Linked DNA regions of Homo sapiens. The protein of the gene in region 1 interacts with the protein of each later gene in a pairwise test. Each region holds a gene or a part of one and is shown on either strand. Other genes may lie near its edges. The genes, in order: GAD2, DGAT2L6, BSND, SEC22A, PLIN3, SDR16C5 and CPLX4.

The links.
Region 2: the proteins of GAD2 (region 1) and DGAT2L6 interact in binary tests that used the Homo sapiens proteins (3 or more experiments, as listed by UniProt).
Region 3: the proteins of GAD2 (region 1) and BSND interact in binary tests that used the Homo sapiens proteins (3 or more experiments, as listed by UniProt).
Region 4: the proteins of GAD2 (region 1) and SEC22A interact in binary tests that used the Homo sapiens proteins (3 or more experiments, as listed by UniProt).
Region 5: the proteins of GAD2 (region 1) and PLIN3 interact in binary tests that used the Homo sapiens proteins (3 or more experiments, as listed by UniProt).
Region 6: the proteins of GAD2 (region 1) and SDR16C5 interact in binary tests that used the Homo sapiens proteins (3 or more experiments, as listed by UniProt).
Region 7: the proteins of GAD2 (region 1) and CPLX4 interact in binary tests that used the Homo sapiens proteins (3 or more experiments, as listed by UniProt).

The regions. Positions count from the first base shown.
Region 1 is NC_000010.11:26,289,464-26,293,622, forward strand, and holds part of GAD2 (glutamate decarboxylase 2), read left to right. Parts: intron 1-3,001; coding exon 3,002-3,109; intron 3,110-3,438; coding exon 3,439-3,528; intron 3,529-4,159. UniProt on the Homo sapiens protein: Catalyzes the production of GABA.
Region 2 is NC_000023.11:70,200,949-70,203,968, forward strand, and holds part of DGAT2L6 (diacylglycerol O-acyltransferase 2-like protein 6), read left to right. Parts: intron 1-941; coding exon 942-1,116; intron 1,117-3,020. UniProt on the Homo sapiens protein: Diglyceride acyltransferase that uses fatty acyl-CoA as substrate. Particularly active with oleate as a substrate. Has no wax synthase activity to produce wax esters.
Region 3 is NC_000001.11:54,997,667-55,002,391, forward strand, and holds the start of BSND (barttin), read left to right. Parts: upstream 1-1,266; 5' UTR 1,267-1,520; coding exon 1,521-1,697; intron 1,698-4,725.
Region 4 is NC_000003.12:123,222,443-123,226,601, forward strand, and holds part of SEC22A (vesicle-trafficking protein SEC22a), read left to right. Parts: intron 1-1,116; coding exon 1,117-1,280; intron 1,281-2,660; coding exon 2,661-2,855; intron 2,856-4,159. UniProt on the Homo sapiens protein: May be involved in vesicle transport between the ER and the Golgi complex.
Region 5 is NC_000019.10:4,846,955-4,851,113, reverse strand, and holds part of PLIN3 (perilipin-3), read left to right. Parts: intron 1-3,223; coding exon 3,224-3,423; intron 3,424-4,159. UniProt on the Homo sapiens protein: Structural component of lipid droplets, which is required for the formation and maintenance of lipid storage droplets. Required for the transport of mannose 6-phosphate receptors (MPR) from endosomes to the trans-Golgi network.
Region 6 is NC_000008.11:56,306,320-56,310,478, reverse strand, and holds part of SDR16C5 (epidermal retinol dehydrogenase 2), read left to right. Parts: intron 1-1,451; coding exon 1,452-1,551; intron 1,552-3,658; coding exon 3,659-3,803; intron 3,804-4,159. UniProt on the Homo sapiens protein: Oxidoreductase with strong preference for NAD. Active in both the oxidative and reductive directions. Oxidizes all-trans-retinol in all-trans-retinaldehyde.
Region 7 is NC_000018.10:59,315,797-59,320,717, reverse strand, and holds the start of CPLX4 (complexin-4), read left to right. Parts: upstream 1-2,068; 5' UTR 2,069-2,255; coding exon 2,256-2,422; intron 2,423-4,921.

The DNA.
Region 1 (4,159 bases):
ATGGAGCTAAATGCACTGATGACAGCCATCATATTAAGTCCAAATTAACTTGATTAGAACCAATTTATGCAAAAAATAAGACCCCTGATTTAGGTTGCTAAGCGGCATACTAGCTGGTTAAGATATGGATTTTTATTATCATCAGCAAAGGCCCAGTGCCTACCGTTGACTCTCCTCTTACGGAGTTGGCCTTTCATTTTGTCTGCATTTTATTAAATAATCCTAGGACCTAATGATTATTTCCCAATGTTGACAGATTTCTACGGTGGCTAAAACTCAGTAGCTAACAAAAATAAGTAAATAAACTTAAAATTACATCTCCCCCCCACCTTTTTTTTTTTTTTTTTGAAATGGAGTCTTGCTCTGTTGCCCAGGCTGGAGTGCAGTGGCGTGATCTCAGCTCACTGCAGCCTCCATCTCCCAGGTTCAAGCGATTCTCCTACATTCCCTTTTCAGGCCTGCAGGAATAACTTCATTTATAACAACCAAGGTTTCATAGCAAATCTCTGTGTTTGTATGTAGTCATACAAATAGTCAGTTTTCCTTGTGGTTTTTTTATGATTAGCTTTTCTAATTAAAAATGTGGATAACAGAGGGACTGGCAAATGGCTGTGAAAAAAAATACCAGGAAAAAAATATTAAAGGGAAATGGACATCTGGCATCCTTTGCTGAAAATGAATGTTTACTTTCTCTCTAAAATATTAATTTATTTTAACAAGTAGATATTCAGCATCTATTATCGTGTCTAGTACTGAATGGGATAAGAAGGCTCTCATTTTCCAGACAAGATAAGATAAATGCACAGAAATCCATCATAAAAGACAGATTAGGACTGATCACAAAAGAAATCCAGACACATCTGGGGAATTTAAAGGACGGAGAGCTCATTCCTGGTTTAAGAATCAAGATGATTCACAAAGAGATGACCTTTGAGATAGGACTTGAACAGGATAGGTAGAAGAAGTAGGATTTCACCCAGCAGTGCTGTGAGAAGGCCATTCCACGGAGTGGTTGAGCAGGAGTTCAGTGCATATTATGAAAGTGAGGGAAAGTCTAATTGACTGAAGGGCGACTTGGGAGCTATGTTCCAGGTGAAAAGTAACAGAGCCTGAACTAGGGTGATAGCAGCAAAAATTGAGATAACAGCAAGGGATTCGGTAGTTATTTCAAAAGCACTGTCTCTGGGGCCTGTGAATGTTTATAAAAGCATTTCAAGAAGTGGAGAATGATCATGACCAGCTCTCAAGATGTCAAACCCCAAGACCACATAGAGGCAGCAGCTGAACACTTGGATGGTGAGATTGCTGAAGTATTTAATGAATGAAAGAATTTTGAAGAATCTCCTAAAAGCCTTCAAAACCTTGAAAATAAAATGTGGATCTTAATCCCATAAATATTCAATATGAACGGGAGGCACCCAGGGCACACTAGAGTTTTCTGTGTCATTCCCCATGTATATCTTTAGCCCCCAACTAAAGGGGCAGTCACATGGCCCATGATCATCCCCATAGCAAGGTCCCAGACCAGGGGAACCAGAGGTCTTTAGTAATCCCATTGCTGTTGCAGTGCAAACTCTTCTTCATGGGAAATCAGAGAGGCATCATCATTCCCATCTGATCAGAGAGTTGGCCAAAGCCATTCATCTGGACAGGGTCAGAGGCAAGCTGGTCATGCCATATCCTAGATCAGATATGCAAAAGTTTAAACCCAACTCCAGACTGGTCCAAAGGATCCAGGTTGGAGAAGAGCAATTAGCTTCCCTCACTTCTACCTACAGTCCATCCCAAGTGAACCCAAACTGTCAGGTCATTCCAAACCAATTATAATCTCCTTAGCACCCATAGATGCAGAGAGCTCCTGGTATGGGTGCTGGCCAAGCATCAGGCATCAGCCCAAGCTCTTCTTGGGGAGGCATCAGGAACCCATCAGCCTCCTTGAGCCGATTACCTGGGGGAGCAGTCTCCAAAGAAGTGAATTTCTGAACCCATTTGATATCTCCAGGGCAGCTTGTTCTTAAACCTGCTTCAGATGTCACAAGTCACTGGGCTATGTTGGGCCCCCTTAGCTGAGATGATGTGATCTTGTATGAAACAGGCAAGTGGGCCCATCTCATCTCCATTACAATTGCTTTCTCTAGGTTCTCTGCTGGAGAAGTTACTGGTAGGCAGGTTCAAAGTGCTTCTGAGATGAGCACTGGCTTTTACTCTTAAGCTTTCTCCATCAGCACCCAGTAAACACCCAAGGAGATAAGAGGAAAGCCATTTTGAAAAGTAACTCTCTTGTGTGTCCCGATGTCAGTTAAACAGCTCCAGTCCAAGACTGTTGTGTTGGTTTTCCCAAGTCTGGATTCAGAGCTTCCAGAGCCAGAAACTAAAAGAAATCAGTGATAATGTTCACCCATTACAGACACGTGAGTCATTTATCTGCCCCCAAAGGAGAACTGTACAGAGCTCGACAGGCTAACAAAGCATCTGGGTGCTCCCTAAAATTCCTGCATCCATTTGTTCAATGAAGTCAGTGAGCACCTACCCAATTTTTTCTGTATCAGGTACACTGGCAGACAAAGATGGGCTCTGGGAATGGAAAATGTGCACGTTGGAGGGGAACTAAGCAGGCATTCTGGGGGGTCTCTGGTGATGCTTTTTATCTGCAGGAAGAGAGTAGCTCAGCCCTCCTGTTATTAATGACTTCCATGATTATTCCTATGAATAGCAGAGGCACATTTTCCTCTTGAGTAGTCAAACTAATTGCCTGGGGAATGGAGGCTCTGGAAGAAAAGGAGTTCCGTGTAGAAAGCAGTAATGAAAGGGAACAAAAGCACCTGACGGGGAGAGCATTGAAGAGAAAATAGCGCTGAAAAAGCCTTTGGAAACAGCCTTGTGTTGAGAAAGTGCCAGACGGGGCTAAGACAGAGACGGCAGGATGACGGTCAGTCTCCAGGGAAATCGCTTCCTCCGCACTCTTAGCCTGCTTAATGAGCTGTGTCCTTCTCTTACCTAGGGGACTACCGGGTTTGAAGCGCATGTTGATAAATGTTTGGAGTTGGCAGAGTATTTATACAACATCATAAAAAACCGAGAAGGATATGAGATGGTGTTTGATGGGAAGGTATGTATTTGGATTTCTACAATCTCAGAAAGTTTAGTCAATTCCAACCCTCATCACTGATATGATGTAAATGATGTGCTGTCCAGGTAAGTGGGACGATTACAGAGGGGAGCAGTGGATGACGGGGTAGCTATTCCAAGCTGGAATAAAGACGAAACTCTCAAAGTGGTCCATATAACGTTGTCAAAATCATGCCCTCCAATGGCAATTCCTGATTGAAAAGTGGGAATTGTGTTCTGAACCTGCTGAATACATCGATTTGAAATGTTCTTGGAATTTTCAAAATTGCCAGCCTGGGCCAAATGTGAATCTTCCTTTCCTCTTTGTAGCCTCAGCACACAAATGTCTGCTTCTGGTACATTCCTCCAAGCTTGCGTACTCTGGAAGACAATGAAGAGAGAATGAGTCGCCTCTCGAAGGTCAGTGCTCCAAGCTCCTCTGATACATGTGTGTATTGAGCCTTTCATGTGCACATCTTCTTTATGACATATGCCTGTGGCCTTAGGAGACAGCCTACCTGGGTACATGGGCCCATTCCCGTCTGTGGACTCCTACAGAGCCAGGACATATAGAGCCTGATATATGCAGACATTTTTCTTCTTTTTTTTTTTTTTTTTTTTTTTGAGATGGAGTCTCACTGTGTCTTCCAGGTTGCAGTGCAGTGGCGTGATCTCAGCTCACTGCATCCTCCACCTCCCGGGTTCAAGCGATTCTCCTGCCTCAGCCTCCCGAGTAGCTGGGAATACAGGCACTCACCACCACGCCCAGACAATTTTTGTATTTTTAGTAGAGATGGGGTTTCAATATGTTGGCCAGGCTGGTCTCGAACTCCTGACCTCAGGTGATCTGCCCACCTTGGCCTCCCAAAGTGCTGAGATTACAGGCATGAGCCACTGTGCCCGGCCTATGCAGACTTTTAACAACTCTATTTGCTTGTTTTCTGAGAGTGAGTTTATGATGTCTTGAAAGAAGTAGTCAGGCGATAACCTTTGCTGGCATTCACAAAGCAACAAGGACGTTGCTGAAGTTCATTGATGTTCCAAGTGAAAC
Region 2 (3,020 bases), on another chromosome or scaffold:
CCTGGAACCCCTTCACACTTGCATAAAATACTAAGGGATAAAGGATAGGAGTTCATCAGAGTATCCAGAACAACTTCCCCATGCTCAGCTTCAAGTCAGGGCACTGTGACAAATGTCTCTCTCTCTGGACAAATAGTCATCCTTCTGGACACCAGAAAACAACTGAAGCCAAACATCCAAAGGTAAGATACATTTCTGTGGAGGGGCCAGGTGGGACCACTAGAGTCCCAGAGGATGCTTCTACTCTGCTCTGAGGTTAGCATGGCCCTGGAGCAGGAATACTTCTCAATGGCTAGAGTCTGGAGGCAATTTCTGCCATCACAGTAGACAATAGAAGGTGAGCGCAGGGCAAAGATGGGAGACAGAAGTGAGAAAGGCTAGATGATTGTTGTTAAACAACAGGGTGTCATTCACATTCCATTATTCATCTACGTTTCAGTTTGGCTTGGTCAGGCTCAGGGGTCTGCCTACTCTCCAGAAACCCCAGCCATTGGCTTCCCTTTGGCAGGTTACTCTTAGGGAGGAAGCAGGTTGGTGGTGGCTAGTCTCGATTACCCCTGGAGGAGAGAACTCTGGAGGATCTCCAGTGTTGTCAGGCTGGGCAGAGTGGAAGATGGCTGTGCTTCATGGGTAGAGAGGGATGAGGTGGGCTTAGATACTATTGATCTGAAATGCAGTAGGCTATGGATGGTAGGAGGCAGAGGAGCTCAGTATAGACCCAACTGCAGAAGCACAGACCCCCAAGGCAAACAGCTGACCCTAAGGACCAATCTTAGGCTAGGGCAGTCATAACCCGGGACACGAAGGTCAGAGACAGAAAGGTGGAAACAGCAATAGTCAGAAAACAGAAGAACTGTCTCCAAAAGGAAGAGCCTGGGAAAACCCCTTACCCCATCCTCAGGAATGAAGTTTTTCTACCACTTGACTCTTTGGTTTCACAGGTGTGTGCCCTGTGAGTAGCTCAGCCTTGAAGTACTTGCTGACCCAGAAAGGCTCAGGCAATGCCGTGGTTATTGTGGTGGGTGGAGCTGCTGAAGCTCTCTTGTGCCGACCAGGAGCCTCCACTCTCTTCCTCAAGCAGCGTAAAGGTTTTGTGAAGATGGCACTGCAAACAGGGTGGGTTCCAAGGTTCTAGTGCTCTGTTGTCAGGGTGCCATAGGCCCTCTGTAGCCCTCTCCAGAATGGTGCCCTCCCTGGGCACCTGTTAGAGGGCCCCCATCTTCACTCTAATTCCTTCTGTCTACCCCCTCACATTGTGCCTTAGGGATGTTTGGGCCTCCAGATACATTTCAGTGGGCACTTTTCTTACTTGAAGTTGGAGAAAGAACAGCAGAAGAAAACCTTTTACTTTCTGCCCATTGGCCTGGTAGGCTGGAGGTCTGGGAAAGCGGGGCTTCACTCTATATCAACCTGTTAACTGAGAGGCCCTAAGAATCTACCAACTGCAAGGGAGGCACTAGCTTTGATACCGTGAGGATCAAAAAGATAAGACATGACCCCAAAGAGCATACAATCTGGTTTGAGAAATAGACCTTATTCATTCAGCAGTTACGGAACACCCACTGTATATCAGGCATAGTACTAGGCATTTAGGATATAAAAGTAAATAAGACCTGGTCCTTGCAAACTCACAGTCCAATATGGAAGAAGACAGACCCATGCACATATAATTACCAAATACCTGCAGAATCCAACCACTTACTACCTAGGCTACCACCCCTTGGTTTACTACCACCATCTCTCCCCTTGGTTGATTACAACACTTCTAACTGCTCTTCCTGTATCTATTCCCACCTCCCCCACCCCAAGAGTCTATTCCCAGCTTCAGCCAGGATGATCCTGTTAAACATGAGTCAGATCATGTCACTTCTCAAAATAATCCAATGGCTCCCATGTCACTCAGAGTAAAAGCCAAAGTCTTTATAGGGGCTTGCAAGACGCGGAATAATCTGGTCTATAGCTGCCTCTCTGTCCTCATCACTCACTTCTCTTCCCACTCTCTCACTCCATCATAGCTATACCGGCCTCTTTGCGGTCCCTCAAGCAGGCCACCCGCTCCTGCTTTAGAGTCTTTGCTTTAGCGGTTCCCTTGGAACACTATTCCTCCAAATGACTGCTTGGCTCATTCCTTTATCTCCTTCAAGTCTTTGCTCAAATGTCTCTTCTCAATACAGTTATCTGACCATCTTGCTCTATTTTTTGCCGGTTACACTTATCTTCTTATAGCTCATCCATTTTATTTATTTGTTTACCAACTATTTTCAATGTTTATTGTCTGTCTTCCTCCCAGAAAAAGTAAACTCCACGAACACAGAATTTTTAAAAATCCATTGTATTCACTGATGCATCTCCAGGGCCTAAAACAGTGCTGGCACATAGAAAGAGCTTAATATTTGTTAAATAAATGGAACACTACAATGGAAATGTGTACAAAGTGCCACGTGAGCACCAATTTATGGAAAGATCTTGACCCAGAATAGAGGTTTCATAGGTGGGTAACATCTGAACTGTGAATTGAAATATTGGTAGGAGTTGCCAGGCAGACCAAAAGGGAGAAAGAACTCAGGCATTCAGTGAGGACCTATGGCATGTCAAGTGCTATGCCAGGGCCTAGGGATTCAAAGATGAATATGACCCAGTTCTTGCCTTTGATTGGCTTGCTGTCTACTGGGGGAGTCAGGCAAGTAAGGAGATGACTATAATACACGGTTGGGGCAGCGTTAGTGTAGAAGAGAGGTAAGCACTAGATGAGGGGTACCTAATCCGCGTTGGGGGAAATGAAGTGGTCAAACAAAGTTGCTTTAAGGGGATGAGATTGGGACTGAGTGCAAAATTGAATGAGCCACATAAAGACAGAGGGAAGAAGGAAGATACTTCCGACAGAGGGAGCAGAATGTACAAAGACACAGAGATGAGAGAGTATGAGGCACACTTAATATGGCTAAGCAGATTGCAAGGAAAGAGTGGGGAAAGGGAAAGCTAGCCAAGGAGGGAAGGCTAGAGCAAAAAGGCCGTAAGGA
Region 3 (4,725 bases), on another chromosome or scaffold:
GCACCTGGACTCTGAGGGCTGGCGATGGTGGGTGTGAGGAAGGAGAAACCCCTGTTGGAAAAAGGGCCTATGAGAAGGACGTCTAGTTAGAGGGGCAGCTGTGAGCACAGGTGTGGGGTTAGGGAACAAGGGCAGCCCTGCTGGCAGGAGGGGAGAAGGTGATGACCGCCAACAGGAAATCCCCAAGCCCAGCAAGTCAGGGAGCCCATTGAAAGCCTTTTATCCTGCATCGGCGATTTAACCCCATGTAAACGCCAAGTGAACATTCTCTTGTAGAGACCGATGGTCCTCATTTTCCTGTAATCCTGTAAAGGAATCTGATTTCTTCCATCAGCCTGTCCCTAGGACTAAAATGCCTCATTAGTGTTATTCTTAGGAAGGCATCTTCCTAGATCAGGCTGCAAGGAAATGGAGGAAGTGACTGTCAGTCACTCACACCCTGCAGGGGCACTAATTCCGAGAGCCTTAGGGGTGGGTGGGGAGCAGTTCATTGAAAGCCCAACTGGGTGGTGCATAGCGTGTGAATGTGAAGGGGATGGAGGAACCCAAGGAGGCCAGGCCTGGAGACAGCACCAAATCTGGGAGGTACATTATTATTCCCATTTTACAGAGGAGGAAACTGAGGTAACCTGATCATGACCACACTGCCCCACAGTAGAGGAGCCAGAATCCAAACCCAGGCAGCCTGCCTTGCCACCAGAGCCACGCTTTTCACCCTCAAGCTGCAGTTAAGAAGTATCACGCCGTGGCTAGGCCCACGGCCTCTGGCTTCACATCCCACTAGCTCTGCCATCTTTAGCTGTGTGACCTTGGGCAAGTTACTTGTCTGTGCCCGAGGGTCCTCTGTAAAGTGGGGATAGTAGTAGCTGCTTCACTGGGTTCCCTTCAATGAGTTAATAGCTGTAACATGTTTAGAATGGTGCCCTGCACATAGTCACCAGCCAGTACATATGGGCCATTATTCCTGAACCCTGGATAGGCACATGTCCTTGAAGAGTGTAGAATTCTTCAGGATTCTGAAATGCCAGCCTGTGGGATCCTGGAATCCTCCAATAGCATTCTAACAGCTCTCAGCTGCAGAACTGTACCCTGTTTTCTAGAGCTGGAAGGTGTGAGGCTGCCTGTCCACCCAGCTCAACCCCACAGTAGGCAAATGAGGTGATGTCAAAGCCTTGGCTGGGGCCCAGCCCCGGTAACCTCCCACTCTCCCTCCCCTGTGTGCTCCCTCGCTCAGATTCACACACACACTCCAGGCCAGCCGGGCCCAGAGGGAAGGTGAGAGGGCAAGGAGTAAAGGTGGCTGGGTGTGGGTCCGTTGAAGCGAGCCGCCTCCAGCCCTGTTGAACTGGTGGGCCCAGGGACTGGAGCGGGATTGAAAGGGATCTTGCTCTCCCTTGAAGCCTTGAGTTGCAGCGATTTCAGTGTCTTCTCTCCCTGTGTAAGCCTGTCTCGGTGTTTAGGCTGAACTACAGCCACCCCCTCTCCCGGGGGTGTGCAGGCCAGGGACTGGCCAGGCAGCCATGGCTGACGAGAAGACCTTCCGGATCGGCTTCATTGTGCTGGGGCTTTTCCTGCTGGCCCTCGGTACGTTCCTCATGAGCCATGATCGGCCCCAGGTCTACGGCACCTTCTATGCCATGGGCAGCGTCATGGTGATCGGGGGCATCATCTGGAGCATGTGCCAGTGCTACCCCAAGGTAGGTGGTAGTGGGGCTGGGTGGGGCCAGGTCAGCTGGGGCCAGGAGGGCTGGACACTGTGCCTGTATGCCATGCCTCACCCCCTATCCTTTAGTTGTCTTTTCATTCTTCTCATTTTGACTCGGTCTTCTCTCTGCTCTCCTGAGCGTCTGTCCCATCCATCCATCCATCCATCCATCCATCCATCCATCCATCCCTTAGCCTAAGGGTTGATCAGAAGGCCCCTGGATCTGGAGCCCTGAGCCGGAAGCTATGGTATAGACACAGCAAACACAACACACCATGTGCTTGAAACAAAAGCTAATGAGCGCTGACCCCCTGCCAGGCACTCCTGCGTTCAGGGTGCAGTTCAGCCCTCATCCTAAGCCTTTTGGTGCTTTCTGTAGTTCCACCTTCTGAGCCTTTCTGAGGTCCAGAAAGAGAGGCTGCACAGCTAACGAGCAAGGTTTGGAGCTCAGATGCGTGTGACTTACACGTCACCCTTCACCTTGGGTCTTCTACCTCTGGGTCCCAGAGCGACTGAGAGCTCCAGGGTAGGTCAGGTCTAACCTTGGTGGCATGCACTGGGCAGTATCCTTTAGAGTCTTCATGTATTCTCAGCCTTATGTGTAATTTAGTGATGGGAAGAGCACTGGTTTGGGAGTCCTGAGTTCTAGTTCAAGTCCTGTTCCAAACTCTCTATGACCTTTGTCTTTCTGAGCCTCATTTTTTTCATCTGCAAATGAGATCCCTGCCCCTATTTTCCACAGAGCTTCACAGGGTCATTATAAAGATCAGAGAAGAGATAAGATATAGGAATATTTTGTAAACTGTAAGGTGTTATTTATAGATGAAGGGCTACCACTGTTACCCATACTGATCCTCCCAACAGCTCTGTGGAATGGAAATGCCAGGAGTTGCGAATCTTCAATGCCTAGAGAGGCTGGGTGACTTCCAAGGTCACACAGCTGGTCAGGTACAGACCCAGGGAGAAAAGGAGGGAAATAGGGACTCTAACTTGGGCTCTGTCTCTTACTGCCTGGGAGACTTTGCTCAAGCCCCTTTCCTCTCTGAGCCTCAGTTTCCTCATTTGTACACTGTGTGAGTTAGGAGGGGGGGGTGGGAAAGGGGGTATATCTGGGGGCCCTGCTGGACCTAATATCTAGGGCTCCAGGTCCAGGCAGTCCTCAGCAACCCCCACACCTCCTCTCCTCCCACCTGGGTGGCTGTGCTCAGGGTTTCAGGGAAGAAGGGGGATGGCTCCCTGGGGCCTGGGCCGGCTCTCCCCAGCCCTGCCCCCTCCACGGGCCAACCCTGGGCTGTCATTCTGTTCAGTGCTGGAGCGGTCTGGGCTGGTTTGTAGTCATTTAGCAGGCAGTTTACAGTCAACTTGCCTCTGTCTGTGCAATTCCTTGAGCAGAGGTCACTGGGAGAAGTCCTTGGGGCCAAAGCCACTCATGTCACCACTGCTATTATAATCCTTCTCCCAGTGAGGAGGCTGGACCCTGGGGGACAGCAGAGGGATGGCAGAGGTGTGGAGAGGAGCATCCTTCCTGCCCCCGCTCTTAAATAGAGCTGGCTCTGGGATGGTTGGTAGGCTGATGGGAGTGACGGTAGAGGGGAGGGGAGGGGAGGAGGGAATATTGCTGGGTATTAATGAGTAACTGTTGATAGATTCATGGGTTCACGTGCTGTGGAGGCAGCGTGGTGGGCTGAAAATGGCACATGTTGTGGCAACCTCCAGGCCCAGATTCAAATCCCTGCTCCTTCATGTCCCACTTCTGTGACCTTGGCAGAAAGAGTCCCTCCCCCTCAGCTCTGAGCCTTGTACGGCTGATTGGGAGAACACAGTGGGATCGTGTGTGTGTGTGTGTGTGTGTGTGTGTGTGTGTGTGTGTGTGTTGGGGGAGACCTGGCATCACACCTGCCATGGAACATATGTGAAGGCATTGTTCTTAGGATTGAGGATTGGTATTTGCGGCACTGGGTGGGCCTCTGCATGAGTGCAGGTGTGTGTGAGTGTGTGTTTCAGAGATGCAGGCTGGTAGAGCCAGCACAAATTGACTCCAATAAGGGAAGGGAGGAAAGCACCTTATAAACCAGGGAGACACTCTAGAGGCGAAGCTCCCTGGATCCTGCTTGGTCTCATTGGTGCCTGGGCCAACGCTGCCTGCAGTGCTCCTGCCTGTCCTCCCCTCAGCCTCCTCCCCGTGGCTCTCTGTGCCAGACCTATGGAAAGTTTTGATAAATGGGGAGATATAAATATAAGGGAATAGAATTAGCTAATTAGGATATAGGGGTGAGGGGTAGCCAATACCAACATGCATTAAGCTGTCCATGTCTTTTAGGGGCTAGAGGTCTAGTGGGAGAGGCTATTTGCTGCCTGATGGGGAGGAAACAGGCTTCACAGAGAAGGTGAGCTGGGCTTTGTAGGTGAGATAAGAGTTCACCAAGCAGAGAAGATGGGGAAAGACATTCCAGGCAGAAGAGTAGCATGATCAAAGCAATGTGGTAAAAGAATAAGGCAAGTGGGCCATTGTGGCTACGAGAGGCAGAGGGGAGGAAGGTAAAGGTAGCGAGGGAGTGGGGCTCAACTCTTCAGGGCCTGGGATGCCATGGTAAGGAATTTGGAGCTTGTCCTTTAGTTAATGGGACACGACCAGCTTTGCAGTTTGAGAAAGACATCCAGAAGAAGGAAGGTCTGGGGGCAGCCATACCAGTGGGGAGGCTTCTTCTCTGGTCTTGGTGAGAGCTGACAGTCATCTGGAATAATGCAGAATTCAAACACAAAGCTGTAGGAACTAAGGTGACATTTACAGTTCACTTCACATAGAGTACCCGTTGTGGCTAGGCATAGCACCAGCACTTCCACCCAGGTTATCTTATTGAATTTCTGAAGTAGACCTGGTCAGATTTGGTGGTCAGCTGGGCCTCAGGCATGAGAGAGGAGAAGGGATCAGGGCAAATCTAGTGGATGGGACAGTTGGAGGTGCTGAGCCCATTAGTGAAGATGGGGCAGGGGAGCTGTGAGCAGGGAAAGGAGTGGCA
Region 4 (4,159 bases), on another chromosome or scaffold:
CCCACCTCGGCCTCCCAAAGTGCTGGGATTACAGGCCCCCACCATGCCCGGCCTCTTTAGCTTCTTTTGATTGGCAACATTTCCACATCCTTTATTTCTTTTTTACAACCCTGGCACTTTTAAAGAATACACTTTTTCCTTTTCAAAAATAGAATGTTGATCATTTTGGTGTTTTCTTAATGATTAAATTCAAATTATGCATTCTCAGAATATTATATAGCTGATGTGTCTTTCTCAGGATATAACATCTGGAGACACACAATGTCCATCTAACATGAATGATGTTAGAGAGTACTTGGTGAAGGAGTTACCTAGTTTCTACTGTATAATATTTTCCCCTTGCAACTAAGAAACAATCCATGGAAAGACATTTTAAAACCATGCAAATATACTAACCCGTAAAAATTTCCCCCTAGATTTAACATCCATGATTGTCCTTGCCTGATCCAATCTTTACTATGTTGGTTGCAAAATGCTGATTTTTCCATTGCTAGCACTTCCTCTACGTTTACCAGTCAACACTCAGCATTCTGCTTTAAGCCATAGCCCTCATTTCTCCTTTTGTTTTTTATATAAACTCATAAATTCCCCCCTCCCATGGTTCATAATTAATTACTGTGTAAAGTAGAGGATTTGATTCTGGGGTGTGTCAATGATAACTTCAAGAGGTCAGTGATCACCTTGAAATTGTGTGCAATCTTCTGTGTTCTGGCATCTTTCTAGGGAGAGTGTTCCTGTCATCAGAATCTTGAAAGGGTTCTGGACTCAAAAGTGGAAAACATATTGAAGGGTTAGACTTTAAGCTATCTGTAATACTTACAATACATTTGTATATCCATTCCCCTGCTTTTTACCCCAAGTGATAACTGAAATGTTAGAACCGTATTGTGTGTCCCTCTGTAGTACATTCTATTTTTTGTCTTCTGTTTTTAAACCACAACTTAAAATAGTGCTGTATTTTGGTTCCTTTAAATTTTTTCCTAGAATATATAATAAATGTTAAGATCTTCATTGCCACCGTAGTAGCAGTTTATGGTGTATAGAACCAGTCTTGTGAAGCAGTGAATTACCTTGATTTAATTTGAAATTTTAAAACCAATGTTTTTTACACTGTAGTTTTATTAGCTCTCTGGGAGTGAGCTACATGATGTTGTGCACTGAAAATTACCCAAATGTTCTCGCCTTCTCTTTCCTGGATGAGCTTCAGAAGGAGTTCATTACTACTTATAACATGATGAAGACAAATACTGCTGTCAGACCATACTGTTTCATTGAATTTGGTAAGGGCCTGATTTTTTTTTCCTTTTTATTCTGTCTGCATCCAATCATAAGCAATTTTAAATCTAATATTGGGTGGAGGGGGGACTTCTGCTATCTTGCTTTTGATATAATAATTTGGTAAATGATCTATAAATTATGGTAACTTTTTACTTAGATGCTTATTAGAAAAAAATTGTGTTTGAGCTGTGAAGGGGATTGTGAGTATTGGTCCGAAGAATTAATGCCAGAGGATAACTTCTCAATGAGAAATTTATAAGCCAGAGATTCAGACTTTTGCGTTTCTGTAATAATCTTTTATAGTCTGCTTCATGTAGAATAGGGGATGGCAAACATTTGCTGGAAAGGACCAGATAGTACATATTTTAGACTTTAAGGATCATATAGTCCCTGTCACAACTATTCAGCCCTGCCGTTGTAGCTCGAAAGCAGCCATAGGCAGTACGTAAATGAGTGCAGTTATATTCTAATAAAACTTTACAGAATAGTCAGCAGGCTAGATTTGGCCTGTGGGCAGTAGTTTGCTCAACTTCTGATGTAGAAGAAAAAAAAAAAACACCATGTTGTAAATAGTAAAAATAAAATTCCACTTGGAAAATATTTAGGAAATGTCTTATGTTAGTTTTATTCAATTTATTCTTTAAAACCTACATTCTAATGGTGTAAGCAATAAAAAACAGATTTATAAAAACATGCAACTTCTAGTGTGTGTTCTTATGTAATTGCAGCTGGTAAATCTGACAGATTTAATATTTCATGAGATAGGAATCTCTATAAAAATCAAGACTTTGGGCCAGGTGTGGTGTGGCTCATGCCTTTTATCCCAGCACTTTGGGAGGCCGAGGCAGTAGGATCACTTAAGGCCAGGAGTTCGAGACCACCCTGGGCAACATAGACCCTGTCTGTACAAAAATAAATAAATAAACTGGGCATGGTGGCTCACACCAGTAGCCCCAGCTGCTTGGGAGACTGAGGCAGAAGGATCACTTGAGCACAGGAGTTTGAGGTTACAGTGAGCTATGATTGTACCACTGCACCCCAGTCTAGGTGACAGAGCAAGACCCTGTCTCAAAAAAAAAAATTCAAGACTTTGGTTTAAAGTTAAAGCTGTTTTTTGTTTTTGTAATTTCTTGAAGTGGATGTAATACACTTAGGTAGTGTTAAATCCTTAGTTTATTTAAAATTACTGATTTCTAGAGGGTAAAACTGATGATTCCATGATACATTAATCATTAAACACAAGTAATATTGGACTATTTCATGACGAATTGAACAATTTTGAATAATAAACTACCTGTAATATTTACTATCCATAAACATCATATTCTGAAATGATTAATTGACAAGTGACTGCAAGGAAATTTATTTTTTATTTTACATAGATAACTTCATTCAGAGGACCAAGCAGCGATATAATAATCCCAGGTCTCTTTCAACAAAGATAAATCTTTCTGACATGCAGACGGAAATCAAGCTGAGGCCTCCTTATCAAATTTCCATGTGCGAACTGGGGTCAGCCAATGGAGTCACATCAGCATTTTCTGTTGACTGTAAAGGTGCTGGTAAGATTTCTTCTGGTGAGTTCTGGATCTCAGTTATTTTATTTTAAAAAAATCCTTGGGAAAAACTGAGAAACTCTTGAAAATGAATTACTTTATTCTAATATTTTAAATCAAGTACATGAGAGAATATAGAAGTTCAAAGCAATCCTTTCAGTGATTTATAAAGTAAGCTACCAGATGTGTGACTAATCGGGAAAATACTTTCAAATAGCAACCTCAGAGGATCTCTTTGCTAGAAAAACATTTTTTTAAATTTAAAATTAAAAAAAGTTAATTTTCATGGGTACATATTCGGTGTGTAATATATTTATGGGGTACATGAGATATTTTGATACAGGTATGCAATGTGTAATAATCACATTAGGGTAAATGGGGTATTCATCACCTCAAGCATTTATTATTTCTTTGTGTTATAAACATGTCAGTTGTGCTCTGTTAATTTTTAAATGTACAATAAATTATTGTTGACTGTAGTCACCCTATTGTGGTATCAAGTACTAAATCTTATTCATTTTAGCTAACTATATTATGTACCCATTAACCATCACCCTTTCTCCCACCCCCACTACCCTTCCCATCCTCCAGTAACCAAAATTCTACTCTCTTATCTCCATGAGTTCAGTTGTTTTAAACTTTAGCTCCCACAAATGAGTGAGAATATGTAAACTTTTCTTTTCTGTGTCTAGTTTATTTCAGTTAATAAAATGTCCTCCAGTTCATCCGTGCTGTTGCAAATGATAGGATCTCATTCTTTTTTTATGGCTGAATAATACTCTGTTGTGTATGTGTGCCACATTTTGTTAATCCGTTTGTCTGATGATGGGCACTTAGGTTGCTTCCAGGTCTTACCTGTTGTGAATATACTGCAGTAAACATGAGAATGCAGATGTCTCTTCGATATGCTGATTTCCTTTCTTTTGGGTATATAGCTAGCAGTGGGGTTGCTGGATTATATGATAGTTCTCTTTTTAGTTTTTGAGGAACCTCAAAACTACTACTGTTCTCCATAGTGGTTGTACTAATTTACATCCCCACCAACAGTGTTCCCTTTCTTCCACGTCATCACCAGCATTCATTATTGCCTGTCTTTTGGATAAAACCCAGTTTAACTGAGGTGAAATGATGTCTCGTTGTAGTTTTGTTTTGCATTTCTCTGATGATCGGTGATGTTGAGCACCTTTTCATATACCTGTTTACCATTTGTATGTCTCTTTTGAGAAATGTCTATTCAGATCTTTTGCCCATTTTTTAATTGGCTTGTTAGATTTTTTCATATAGAGTTGTTTGAGCTCATTGTGTATTCTAGTTATTAATCCCTT
Region 5 (4,159 bases), on another chromosome or scaffold:
TAGCTCAATGCAGCCTCCAACTCCTGGGTTGAGGCGAGCCTCCCATCTCAGCCTCCGAGTAGCTGGGACTACAAGCACACACCATCACGCCCAACTAATTTTTCTTTATTTAATTTTTGGTAAAGACGGGGTCTCCCTCTGTCATCCCAGCTGATCCAGAACTCCTTGGCTGGAGTGATCCTACTGCTTTAGCCCCCCAAAGTGCGGGGATTGGGATTTTTGCAAATAAGTAGCTTAGGATATAGGCAGGGCGCGGTGGCTCAGCCTGTAATCCCAGCACTTTGGTGGGCCGAGGTGGGCAGATCACCTGAAGTCAAGAGTTTGAGACAAGCCTGGCCAACATGGTGAAACCCGGTCTCTACTAAAAATACAAAAATTAGGCCGGGCACGGTGGGTCACGCCTGTAATCCCAGCACTTTGGGAGGCCAAGGCCGGGCGGATCACAGGTTCAGGAGATCGAGACCATCCTGGCTAACACAGTGAAACCCCATCTCTACTAAAAAAAAAAAAAAAAAAAAAAAAAAAATTAGCCGGGCGTGGTGGCGGGTGCCTGTAGTCCCAGCTACTCGGGAGACTGAGGCAGGAGAATGGCATGAACCTGGGAGGCGGAGCTTGCAGTGAGCCGAGATCATGCCACTCCACTCCAGCCTGGGCAATAGAGCTAGACGCCGTCTCAAAAAAATAATAATAATAAAATAAACATTAGCCAGGTGCGGTGGCAGGCGTCTGTAATCCCAGCTACTTGGGAGGCAGAGGTTGCAGTGAGCCAAGATTGGGCCGCTGCACTCCAGCCTGGGCGACAGAGTGAGACTCCATCTCAAAAAAAAAAAAGCATGGGTACAGTAGGAGCAGGATTAAATAAATACATGCAGCTGGGCGCAGTGGCTCATGGCTGTAATCCCAGTACTTTGGGAGGCTGAGGCGGGTGGAGGTTGAGGTCGGGAGTTCGAGACAAGCCTGACCAACATAAAGAAACCCTATCTCTACTAAAAATACAAAATTAGCCAGGCATGGTGGCGCATCCCTGTAATCCCAGCTAACTCGGGAGGCTGAGGCAAGAGAATGGCTTGAATCTGGGAGGCAGAGCTTGTGGTGAGCCAAGACTGCGCCATTGCACTCCAGCCCAGGCAACAAGAGTGAAACTCCATCTCAAAAAAAATAAAGGCCAGGTGTGGTGACTCATGCCTGTAATCCCAGCACTTTCGGAGGCTGAGGCAGCTGGATCACATGGTCAGGAGTTTGAGACCAGCCTGGCCAACATGGTGAAACCCCATCTCTACTAAAAATACAAAAATTAGCCAAGCATGGTGGCACATTCCTGTAATCCCAGCTACTCAGGAGGCTAAGGCAGGAGAATCACTTGAACCCGGGAGGCGGAGGTTGCAGTGAGCCGAGATCATGCCATTGCACTCCAGCCTGGGCAACAGAGTGAGACTCTGTCTCAAAAAAATAAATAAATAAATAAATAAGTAAATAAATACATGCATATACACATATGAACCTACGAACATGGGATGAGGCCAGGCGTGGTGGCTCACACCTGTCATCCCAGCACTTTGGTGGGAGGATTAGTTAAGCCCAGTAGTTCCAGACCAGCCTGGACAACATAGACCCCATCTCTACAAAAAATTTAAAAATTAGCTGGGTGTGCTAGTGCACGCCTGTAGTCCCAGTTGCTATTTGGGAGCTGAGACAGGAGGATCACTTGAGCCTGGGAGTTCAAGGCTACAGTGAGCTATGATTGCACCGCTGCACTCCAGCCTGGGCAACAGAGCGAGACTGTACTTCAAAATATAAAAACCGACAAAACAAACAGATCTAAACATAGAAAAGGTACAGGAAGCCAGGTGCAATGGCTCACACCTGTAAACCTAGCACTTTGGGAGTCTGAGGCGAGCAGATTGCTTGAGTCCAGGATTTCAAGACCAGCCTGGGCAACATAGTGAGACCCCATTCCTACAAAAAGTACAAAAATTAGCCAGGTGTCTTGCCGTAGTCCCAGCTTTATGTAGTCCCAGCTACTCGGGAGGCCAAGGTTGAAGGATAGCTTGAAGCTGGGAGGTTGAGCCTGCAGTAAGCTGAGGTCGTGCCACTGTACTCCAGCCTGGGCAACAGACCGAGACCCTGTCTAAAAAAAAGAAGAAAAAGTACAGGAAAAATACGGTATATATGGTATTATAATCTTATGGGACCACTGTAGTATATGCAGTCCATTGTTGGCTGAAATGTCATTATTCTCTTTTTTTTTTGAGACGGAGTCTCACTCTCACCCAGGCTGGAGTGCAGTGGTGTGATCTTGGCTCACTGCAGCCTCCACCTCCCGGGTTCAAGCGATTCTCCTGCCTCAGCCTCCTAAGTAGCTGAGATTACAGGCTAGTGCCATCACGCCTGGCTAATTTTTGTATTTTTAGTAGAGATGGGGTAGTGCCATGTTGGCCAGGCTAGTCTTGAACTCCTGACCTCAAGTGATCTGCCCGCCTTGGCCTCCCAAAGGGCTGGCATTACTGGCATGAGCCACTGCACCCGGCCTACGGTATTATAATCTTATGGGACCTCTGTAGTATATGTGATGTATTGCTGGCTGGAATGCTGTTATTCTCTGCAGGACTGCATAATGAACATTCAGGCCTATATTCACAGGTTGTCCAAGGCAGGTCTGGCCTGCAGGCCATAGCTTGAGACCCTCCTGCTAGTCTAAGGTCTCTGATTCCTGTGAGGTTTAATTTTCCTTATCCCCGTTTTGCAGATAGGGAAAACCAAGGCAGAATCCTTTGCTCCCAGGCCTTCGAGGTTTATAAGAAGTAGAACTGGGTTATAAACTGGACAGCATGGCCAGGTGTGGTGGCTCACGCCTATAATCACAGCACTTTTGGAGGCCAGTTCGGATGAATCACTGGAGATCAGGAGTTCGAGACCAGCCTGGCCAACATGGTGAAACCCCGTCTCTACTAAAAATACAAAAATTAGCTGGGCATGGTGGCGGGCGCCTGTAATCTCAGTTACTCGGGAGGCTGAGGCAGGATAATCACTTGAACCCGGGAGGCAGAGGTTGCAGTGAGCCGAGATGACACCACTGCACTCCAACCTGGGCGACAGAGCGAGACTCCATCTCTAAATAAATAAATAAATAAACTGGACAGTGTGATTCTTGGGACTGTCTGCATGGGACGAGCCCAGCTGTGTGTTCTGGTCTTCACAGAGACCCTTCTCCTTTTCCTTGCAGCCCGCATCGCCACATCCCTGGATGGCTTTGACGTCGCGTCCGTGCAGCAGCAGCGGCAGGAACAGAGCTACTTCGTACGTCTGGGCTCCCTGTCGGAGAGGCTGCGGCAGCACGCCTATGAGCACTCGCTGGGCAAGCTTCGAGCCACCAAGCAGAGGGCACAGGAGGCTCTGCTGCAGCTGTCGCAGGTCCTAAGCCTGGTGAGGTTCCAGGGGGTCGGGGCCCTGAGCCAGCAGCCTTCACCCCGCAGCAGACACCCACCCAGAGCTCAGTGGCTTATTGCTCACCCCTCTGCAGGCTGGCAGGGCCATTCCCGCTTGCTCCTGGCACTGTATCTGGTTGTACACTCATTTGCTCAGGATGCTGCCACAAACCACACTGTCTGGGGCCGGGCACAGTGGCTCACACCTCTTTGTGTGAGTCCCTCAAGTGCTTTGGGAGCCCAAGGCAGGAGGATCGCATGAGTCCAGGGGTTTGAGACCCACCTGGGCAATATAGCAAGACCCCATCTCTACAAAAAATAATTTAAAACAATTAGCTGGCTGTGGTGGTGCGTGCCTGTAATCTCAGCTACTTGGGAGGCTGAGGTGGGACGATTGCTTGAGCCCAGGAGTTGGAGGCTGCAGTGAGCTATGATTGTGCCACTGCACTGCAGCCTAGTCAACAGAGCAAGACCCCATCTCAAAAAAAAAAAAAAAATCGTGGCCAGGTGCGGTGGCTCATGCCTGTAATCCCAGCACTTTGGGAGGCTGAGGCGGGTGGATCACGAGGTCAGGAGTTCAAGACCAGCCTGGCCAACATGGTGAAACCCCATCTCTACTAAAAATACAAAAATTAGCCAGGTACAATGGCAGGCACCTGTAATCCCAGCTACTCAGGAGGCTGAGGCAGGAGAATCGCTTGAACCCGGGCGGCAGAGATTGCAGTGAGCCGAGA
Region 6 (4,159 bases), on another chromosome or scaffold:
CAAAGTGCTTGGATTACAGGTGTGAGCCACTGCGCTTGGCCTGGCTTTGTGTTCTTTTCCTACCTCTCTGTTTTTCCCCAGGTGCCTTCATGGTGTCTGTCTCTCTCTTTTCTTCTTTTCTTCTTCTTCCTCTTCCTCCTTCCTCCTCCTCCTCCTTCCTCCTCCTCCTTCCTCCTCCTCCTCCTTCCTCCTCCTCCTCCTTCCTCCTCCTCCTCCTTCCTCCTCCTCCTCCTTCCTCCTCCTCCTCCTTCCTCCTCCTCCTCCTTCCTCCTCCTCCTCCTTCCTCCTCCTCCTTCCTCCTCCTCCTCCTCCCTCCTCCTCCTCCTTCCTCCTCCTCCTCCTCCCTCCTCCTCCTCCTTCCTTCTCCTCCTCCTTCCTCCTCTTCCTCCTTCTTCTTCTTCCTCCAACTCCAACTCCTCCTCTACCTCCTCTTCCTCTTCCTCCTCTTCCTTCAGTGCTGGTGTTTCCCTGGCTCCTACCACTCCTCATGTCATCTCACTCCCTTTACTTCTTCTGGGCAAGTTCATGTACATTCTTTGAGCATCTGCACATTGCCAGGCACAAAGACAGTGACTTAACTGCTAGAGCGTCCAAGAGCTACCTGAAGGCTGGGCTCTCAAAGGCAGTGTCCCTACTGAGAAGTGTCCCAACTCATGGCAGACCCCAGAGTGTTTGCTGCACTGCTTCCTTTTGCTTTGTTTTGATTTCCCACCTCTCTCTACCTGTTAGTTTCTCTCTGAGACTTATTGCAATGCAGGCAAACAAGTGAGGTTTGGCCTTTGTAAGAGATCCCTTTTCTCACCTCCTTGTCTTTGGTGTGATTAGTTACTCCTTTGATGCAGAAGATGTCTTCCTTAAAAGCTCATTTCTGTCTCTTTTACCTTCTTTCTCCAGGCCCCCAATCAAGGGTGAAGGTGTTGGACAGAATACAGATGTGTCCTCTTTCTAATAGATATTCTGTTTTACGAAATGGAACAAAAATAAGAGATGAGTTTAAAACAAAGTGCTCTTTTAAAATTGAAGTCAACAGCCAGATGTCCTGTGAACAATGTTCAGGGAAAATTTGAAACTCAAAATCAAGCTAAGCAGAGAGAAGGCAATCTAAATCTAAAGCATCATGTTTGTGAGGTTTGGGGTTGTGGCTGCCACAACAAAGATTTACTCCTTCAATTCTTGTTTTAATATTGTGTCGTTAAAAGTCAAATATGAGCAAAAACATAAGTCTGAATAAATTATTTTAATAATACTGGAATTGCCATAAAAAACTGATTTAACAGGTTAAATAAGTTAAAATGATTACTTTCCAGATGTTTAAGTTTTTATATCCCCATACCTTCAGATATTTTACAGGCTGAAAAAAAAAGATTTTTTAATCACAATGAGTATATAAATATCTGAGAAAATTATACAATGTGGCATTAAACATTAAAAGTTTTCCTTTGTATTCTTAGACTTATAAAGCCTTTCTACCTGCTATGATTGCTAATGACCATGGACATTTGGTTTGCATTTCAAGTTCAGCTGGATTAAGTGGAGTAAATGGGCTGGCAGGTAAGAAAAACATAGCAATTTACAATTGCAAAATTCCCTATAACTTTAACTTACACAATAGCTCTGAATAATTAGCACTGACTTGATGCCCTAAGATAAAGGATAATAAACTAAAAAGTATAGTCAATAAGTGGTTGATAACTTCATCGTGTAGCAAAACTGCCCATCAGATAGACTTACATGAAATTGGACTATGCCCTTTGGAATCATTAGGTCTTATGCAGTACCCTGTGTTTAAAAGAGAGAGAGGCCTCACTGATAAATTTTTTGCACAAGTGATCAACAAAACAACTGTCCACCAAAGTTCACACTGACACTGTCACAGATGGTAAGGAGGATGACCCTGTCTTCTCCTGAAGTTTCCTTTAAGTGGTCTCCCCACTGCTGTGAGTTTGGATAAAGTTTCTACACCTCAAGATACCTAAAGTTAACTGCTTTGTTTTTCCACTGGTTGAAGACCTGCAGGAAGTGGTGGGCATTTTCATCTCCCTTGCAACAACCAACTGACTTGACAGTAGCAGTGGGGAGAGGGCAAAGAGATCCTTCAAGACCCTCAACCAAGGAGGCCCAACTTGGGAGCTGGCTCTAGAAGGAATAGAAATCTTGACCTAACCTACCACAGCATCCCCTAGAGGAAATGTCCCAAGTCCTGGCTTACAAACATTGCTAAAACTCATCCAACAGAACTGTAGCAGCAACATTCGGATAACAGATAAGCCAGTTTGCCAGTTGGGTGGTTCCTAATGCTTTTGAAGCAAAGTGGCGTAGTTCAAGATTCACAAAACCAGTCTTAGCTCAGTATATCTATTACATGAATAGGTTTTTCAGGACCACCAGTCACCCCAAATATCACCAGTCTATCCTCCTTATGACCCAGGACTTCCCTTCCTCTCTCCTTCTTAGAACTTATCAGGTATTATTCTTACCTCCCTCTTATATATCTGTTGTCACGGGCCTTTGAAATCATTCAGGTATATTTACAGCTCCTTATCAATCCTTTTCAGACAGAACATTCCTGTCTTGAGATACAGGACTCTCGCACCTGCAGCTCATCTTAGAAACAAGTATAAGCCTTTTGTATTTCCCACCGTGTGAGTCTTTACTCCCCTGCATCAGAACCACCGGGGTGCCAGTTTAGCATGCAGATTCCTTGGGTCATGGGCCATATCTGCTCATCAGAATCTCAGGGGTCAAGGGACTCAGCTGCATTTATACCTGATGACTCCAATGACCCTAGAAGCTGCTCTGGACTCCTCGTCCCCCTTCCCAGTCTCTAGCCTCTGACCCACTGTCTGGACAGCACTAGGGCTGGACAACCCCACGCCTGGCGCTTATAAACTGGCTCTTGCCAGTTGCAGTAGCTGCACCGTAACATAGCAAGTTTAAATATGCCTCCTCTGAATGTGTGGAGCAAAGGAAAGTGTTAATGTACCTCAATGCCATTTCTTCTCCAAACTTCTTCACTTAGTCAACTGAATAGTCAGATGTTTTGTTAAAACAGGTATGATTAAAGACAAAAAGCTGAAAATGGACACAAATGCCACTTTCCACTCCTTCCTCTGCCCCCACCCTACATTTTCAAGGTATTTAAGAGGTGGAGGTTGAAGCTACCAAGCCCTTTTTTTTTTTCTGGAAGTGAAGGAAAGAGTTATAGTTGGAAGAAAACTTCATCTGAGAATCACAACCCATGCTGGCCTCTCTTGCCTAGATTCCTATATCACTTAGTGTTTTATTTCTTCTTTTGAATGTCTTCATGCCCCAATGGGATTGCAATTTTTTGAGACAAGGCACCATGTAAGAACTAGCACAGGGGCTCACAATGCATTTACTTGTAAGTAAAGTCCAGCAGTGTGACCTGAGACAGGATCTCTGCAGCCCTTCTTGTGCTGGGCTCTACTTGGTCATTGTCAACTGACCCTGATCTTCAGTTAACCATGTCCCTTCCCACTCCCTGCTCACTTCTTCCAGTGGGAGTAGACCAAGATTACACAAAAGGAGAACTCTGAAATTGTCTTATTTTCTGTCGCTGTTAGCGTTATGGGTAAACCTTAATGTAATGCCATTTTAAAACTTTGGAATATACGTTATCATGCTTTGTCTTTTTCAGATTACTGTGCAAGTAAATTTGCAGCCTTTGGGTTTGCTGAATCTGTATTTGTAGAAACATTTGTCCAAAAACAAAAGGGGATCAAAACCACGATTGTGTGCCCCTTTTTTATAAAAACTGGAATGTTTGAAGGTTGTACTACAGGGTAAGTATGTCCTTTAATTTCAAAGAATCTACACTCTTAAAAATGTTTTGCTATTTTATTTTGTTCTTTTTTTTAAGTTGTTTAAAATATATTGTTCTGGGATTCAGTATGATTTATAAATGGTTTTAGAATTCTGTCTTTCTTAGTATGTGTTTGTGTGAAGGATACCAAGTTGAATGGGAATGGTTTATCAAGGCAGTGTCTCTCAGCTCCCCCAGGCCCTGGATCTGCTCCTCCATTTCCCAGACTCTCAGGGCCACATCCCCTTCCTGCCATCCAATCCCATTCTGCTCCCTCTCTGATTCCAGGAGGACTAGAAATAACTGGAGAGACATTGTCTTGGTCATATAGAAGGA
Region 7 (4,921 bases), on another chromosome or scaffold:
CCATTCATGAATCCAGGGCATTCATTTCCCCTTTCTGAAGGAACGGAAGATTCTACCACCATTTCTACAAGATTCTACAGCCAGGCTTGGTGGCTCACACTTATAATCCCACCACTTTGAGAAACTGAGGCAGGCAGATCACTTGAGGTCAGGAGTTCAAGACCAGCCTGGCCAATATGGCAAAACCCTGTCTCTACCAAAAATACAAAAGCTTAGCCGGGCATGGTGGCGCATGCCTGTAATCCTAGGTACTCGGGAGACTAAGGCAGGAGACTCGCTTGAACCCAGGAGGCGGAGGTTGCAGAGAGCTGAGATCCTGCCACTGCACTACAGCCTGGGCAACACAGTGAGGCTGTCTCCAAAAAAAAAGATCCTACACACCAGCTAGTAGTTCCTGGATGTCCAAGGGCAAAGGTCATTGTAATAAATCAAGGAGTAAAAAGTTTTTTAAGTCGTGACCTCATTCTCAATGGAATTACCTGTTGAGGAAATAATAAGATATTTGATTTCATAAAGCACTCTCAGGAGACCTTCCACGGCGACCCTGCTGAAGCTACCACCGAAGAGTCCCCATAATGCATGACACCCCCTCTTCCTAACCCCCTCCACACAAACATACATTCAGAAAAGGACGGGACAGGGAGAAACTCCTTTACACATGGGTGCTGGAGTTTAGAATTGACACCCTCACCATTAATATTTCCTAATTCCTCATACAATGGAATTTTTAGAATAGATTTTATAATAAATCTAAATAATTACTTATAATAAAATGTAGACCGAACAGACAGAAACACAAGGCTGTGGCTTTTATTTTATGGTTTGAAAAGTTCTATGAGACAACATTAATTAGTAACATTCCTCAGTGGACTGCAATGTAGTTTATTATAAATGGTAATTTAGAGATAATGGTATGAACGTGTTAAGTTCCAAGCAACCCATCTAAAAGAGAAAGTGGAACTCAATATTGATGGGCATTCTCCTCGAAGCCCTGAGTACAGCTTATATTTCACCCTAAATTATCTTTTTTAGCCTTTCATATTGAGACCATTTAAGCAGCATTTTAAAATAGATTACTAAAAGGGAAAGCAGACGATAAAATATATAAAGCAAGCATTTTAGGCAAGAATCCAGATTATGTAATTCTATATGATCAGAGAGATAATCACCTGGTTTCTGAGAGGACTCATGCCTTCAGATAAAATAACAATGGATTACATCTCTTCCTTCCCACCCCACCCTCTTTGGCAGGCTTTAATTAGAAAGATACTAGTGTAGATTGAAGTCTTAGCCATACTCAACTCTTCCCTTGACCTGAAGAAAACCACAGCCATAGAGAATCTGGTGGGATACAAAACATTGTCAGTTTCATCCAAGTACACCAGTGAGCTTAAATAGAGCACCCAGGAGGTGCACTCTTTATGCAAGAGAAAAAAGGTGACCCCTTACATATTGATGATTTGACTCACATAATGGTCTTACCTTCTGGATCAGAGCCTTGAAGTGTCAAGCACATCATTTCCATATAGACAAGTAATATTTCCATGCAGGAGAAGGCTAAGATAATCTTCCAGATGTAAACCAAGGACCTGCTGTCTGGGTCTTTGCATTTGTCAGTTGTGTATTTATGTGCGGGACACAGTAACTATTGAAGCAAACCGAATTCAAGCAAACTAAAAAGCAAATCCTTGCATAGTACTTAAAGTCCAATGAGATAAAATGATGGATCGAAAGGATTATTTTTGCTTAATGAAGCATTCTGGGTTTTGAGTCTCATTGGACTCAGTTTTTCAACAGGATGTTTTGCTCAAGGGCTGGAATTTGGAAATTCCACAACAGCTATATAATCAGTCAGCTCTGATTAATTTAATTGAAACAGGACTCTTGATGAAGCCCTGCTGTGCTTATAATTAAAAATTTAGAAAGGGGTAGATGATGTGGGGATTTCTTTTTCCTGTGAAATTAGCTGAGTGTATTAATTCAGAAGGTAGGCAGTTGCCTCTGATTGTATGCTTCGGTAATCTGAACCATCTGCCTCTATATACTAAGGAGTTCACCACTTTAATCCAGCTTACGGCCGACAAACCACTCTTCTCTATCAGTATGCCCTTGAATAGATGAGGTTGTGCAAAGTCCTTTGCTCTTAAATGTATTGCTGTCATTGAGAATATTTGGAGGTTTTCTCTTGGGTTTGTTTGGATTTTTTTTTTCAGCTTTTGTCTGAATTTTGGTTTTATTTTTCTGGGGCAGAGAAAATGGCTTTCCTTATGAAAAGTATGATAAGTAACCAGGTAAAGAATTTAGGATTTGGTGGTGGGTCTGAAGAAAATAAAGAAGAAGGAGGTGCATCTGATCCTGCAGCAGCTCAAGGGATGACTAGAGAGGAGTATGAGGAGTATCAAAAGCAAATGATTGAGGAGAAGTGAGTACATGCTATTTCATTTCCCTTAAAAAGCAAAGGAAATTCATTCTGGCCATACCTTCTTCAGTTCTCCAGTTTATTTCTCTTTGCTTTTTAAGATGCCTTTCCTTTTGCCGTTTACCTCTAACCCAAGGAAAGGTTGTTCTTCTAAAGTAAACGGTTCCCTAACATCAGCAGCTACTATGTTCTATGTTCTACATGTATGAATGGAAATGAACAATAATAAATGAATCTATATGTTGTTCTTAAAGCAGCTTAACACTTTCTGGTCTAGGCATGTTTTGATTGACCTCAATTTAATTATTTAGATGAAAAGTGGTAGGTTTAACTATCTTTACATTCTTTCTAAACTTCACCCTCTTAGCACGTAGAAAGTCTTCAAATTGTAAGAATTCAGACCTTATACCTAGAAAAGGGCCTAAAATAACATAGAGGGCAGCTTCTTTGATCTTGCATGTGAGAAAAAAAAAAAAAACCCAGGAAGCATAACATGACAATTATGTCATAAGACTTGGCTTATCAAAGACTATGAATGGATTTGTGGACTGTTTAATATGGAAATTCTAAACATACAGAAAAGTAGAATAGTAGGACAAATACCCACATATACCTATGACATAAAATCAACAGCTTACAGTTTGCTACATTTGCTTAAAGATTAAAAAGATAGATGGTAGATAATAGCTTTTAAAGTAAATTACAGATGTCATGTACTTCACCCCCAAATACTTCAGCCACCTTCCTCCAAAAAATAAAGGCATTTTCTTGGCTATATAAAATATAACAAAAATAAAATATAAAATATAAGCAACATTTAATTGGGTATTATAGAATGTGAATATCACCAACAACTTTTCACCACTTGAAGACTGATTCTGAAATAAATGTAATCTCTGTGTAATTTTTAAATGTTTAAGGTAGAATTAAGATTCTTTTAATAATCAGTTAAGAAATGAAACATCAATCTAGAGGTTAAATGTTTATCATATGTTTCAAAAGAAAAGTATTTCTTTTTTGCCACCAGGACTCTTTTGCTAATGATCAATTACATAATAGTTGCCTAAATCCTATCGCTAAGATGATTATAGGTGAAAAGGTTAATGACCTGGAGGAAACAAAGAAAGTACAAAGACTACGTTTAGTGGAAACCTTGTCTATTGTATTTTTCTGAAAGAAATCATGGCTTATAGACTACCTAGAATACATTATGCTTGGTTCTGCAGTAACTTAAAGTTGGTTTTTAAAAAACAGTCAATGCAACTAGCAAAAATGATGGTGCTAAGACTTGGGCAAAAGAAGCAGCATTCCTTGAATATTGGCTGATTTTACCTATGGCATGCAAAAGAACAAAAAGCTTAAAAGCAAAATAAGTACTGTGTAATGAAGGATAGAAGACAAAAATCAGCATCAAACATTCTCAGATCAAGTAGGCTAATGAAAACAGAAATGTAGACTACAGTTGTGAGCATGCAAAATATCACCTAATATGTTCAAGCAGCAGATCCGATTGCAGATAAGGCATCTATTTGATTAACTAATGTCCTAGTTTTCCTTAATTTTATATCTGGACAGATCAAAGCTCAAAATGGCCAAATCATACAGTCAATCAGCAGACTGAGTTGTCAGCTACTCAGCTTTTTGCATATGTGTGTGAGAATATTATATATTTATGTAGTCACTCAATGTAAGAAATAGTGTCAGGACAATGGAGCATTTGGCTTCCCTATGATAAAGAGGGATGACTTTCAGTCCATTGTTTGAGTTTTCAAGAATTTCACCACCTAGAATGCAATATGTAGTAGGCATTAAAAATAATTCATCACAAGATAAACGCAGAGAGAGCTACAAACAGTTTAGTATATATAATAATTAAAATCAATGTTAGCAAATGAAAGCCTCCTAAACCCATCCTCATCATTGTAGGAAGTGGGGAGACTATATGAATTATAAATAAAAAACTATTTAGCAATGCACTCTATTTAATAATGCACATTCATTTTTATTTTCTTTCTGTGTTCAATGTGTGTGTGTGTGTGTGCGCACGCACCACTGGTAACATTAGTACTGAAAGAGGTCTAAACATAAATAGACTATCTGGAAAGGAAATAAAACAATAGTCTGTTTCTCCCGCCATTTTCTCAATTATATTAAAATGCTTCTTTGCCATAGTTATGCTTCAACAGTTTCTACAATATCATTTGTAACTTGACTCTGACCTTTGTTTTATTCAGTAATTGTTTGGACCCCTAGTATGAGCATAGCATTGTGAGGAATGTACTGAAATGGAAGAGATGGGTTTTCTTCTGCAGGAATTTACACTTTACTTGGTGGGGGGAGACTAGCTAGCTGCATGTGACTATAAACAGAGCAACCAGCTTTTCTGCGTGATTTGTAGACTGGCTCTGGAGGACTGGAATGTAACTCTGCGTGGCATTAGTATCAACAAATCGATCAATGGGGTTTATAGTTATTTGATTTTCAACAAAAGCGCCAAAATAA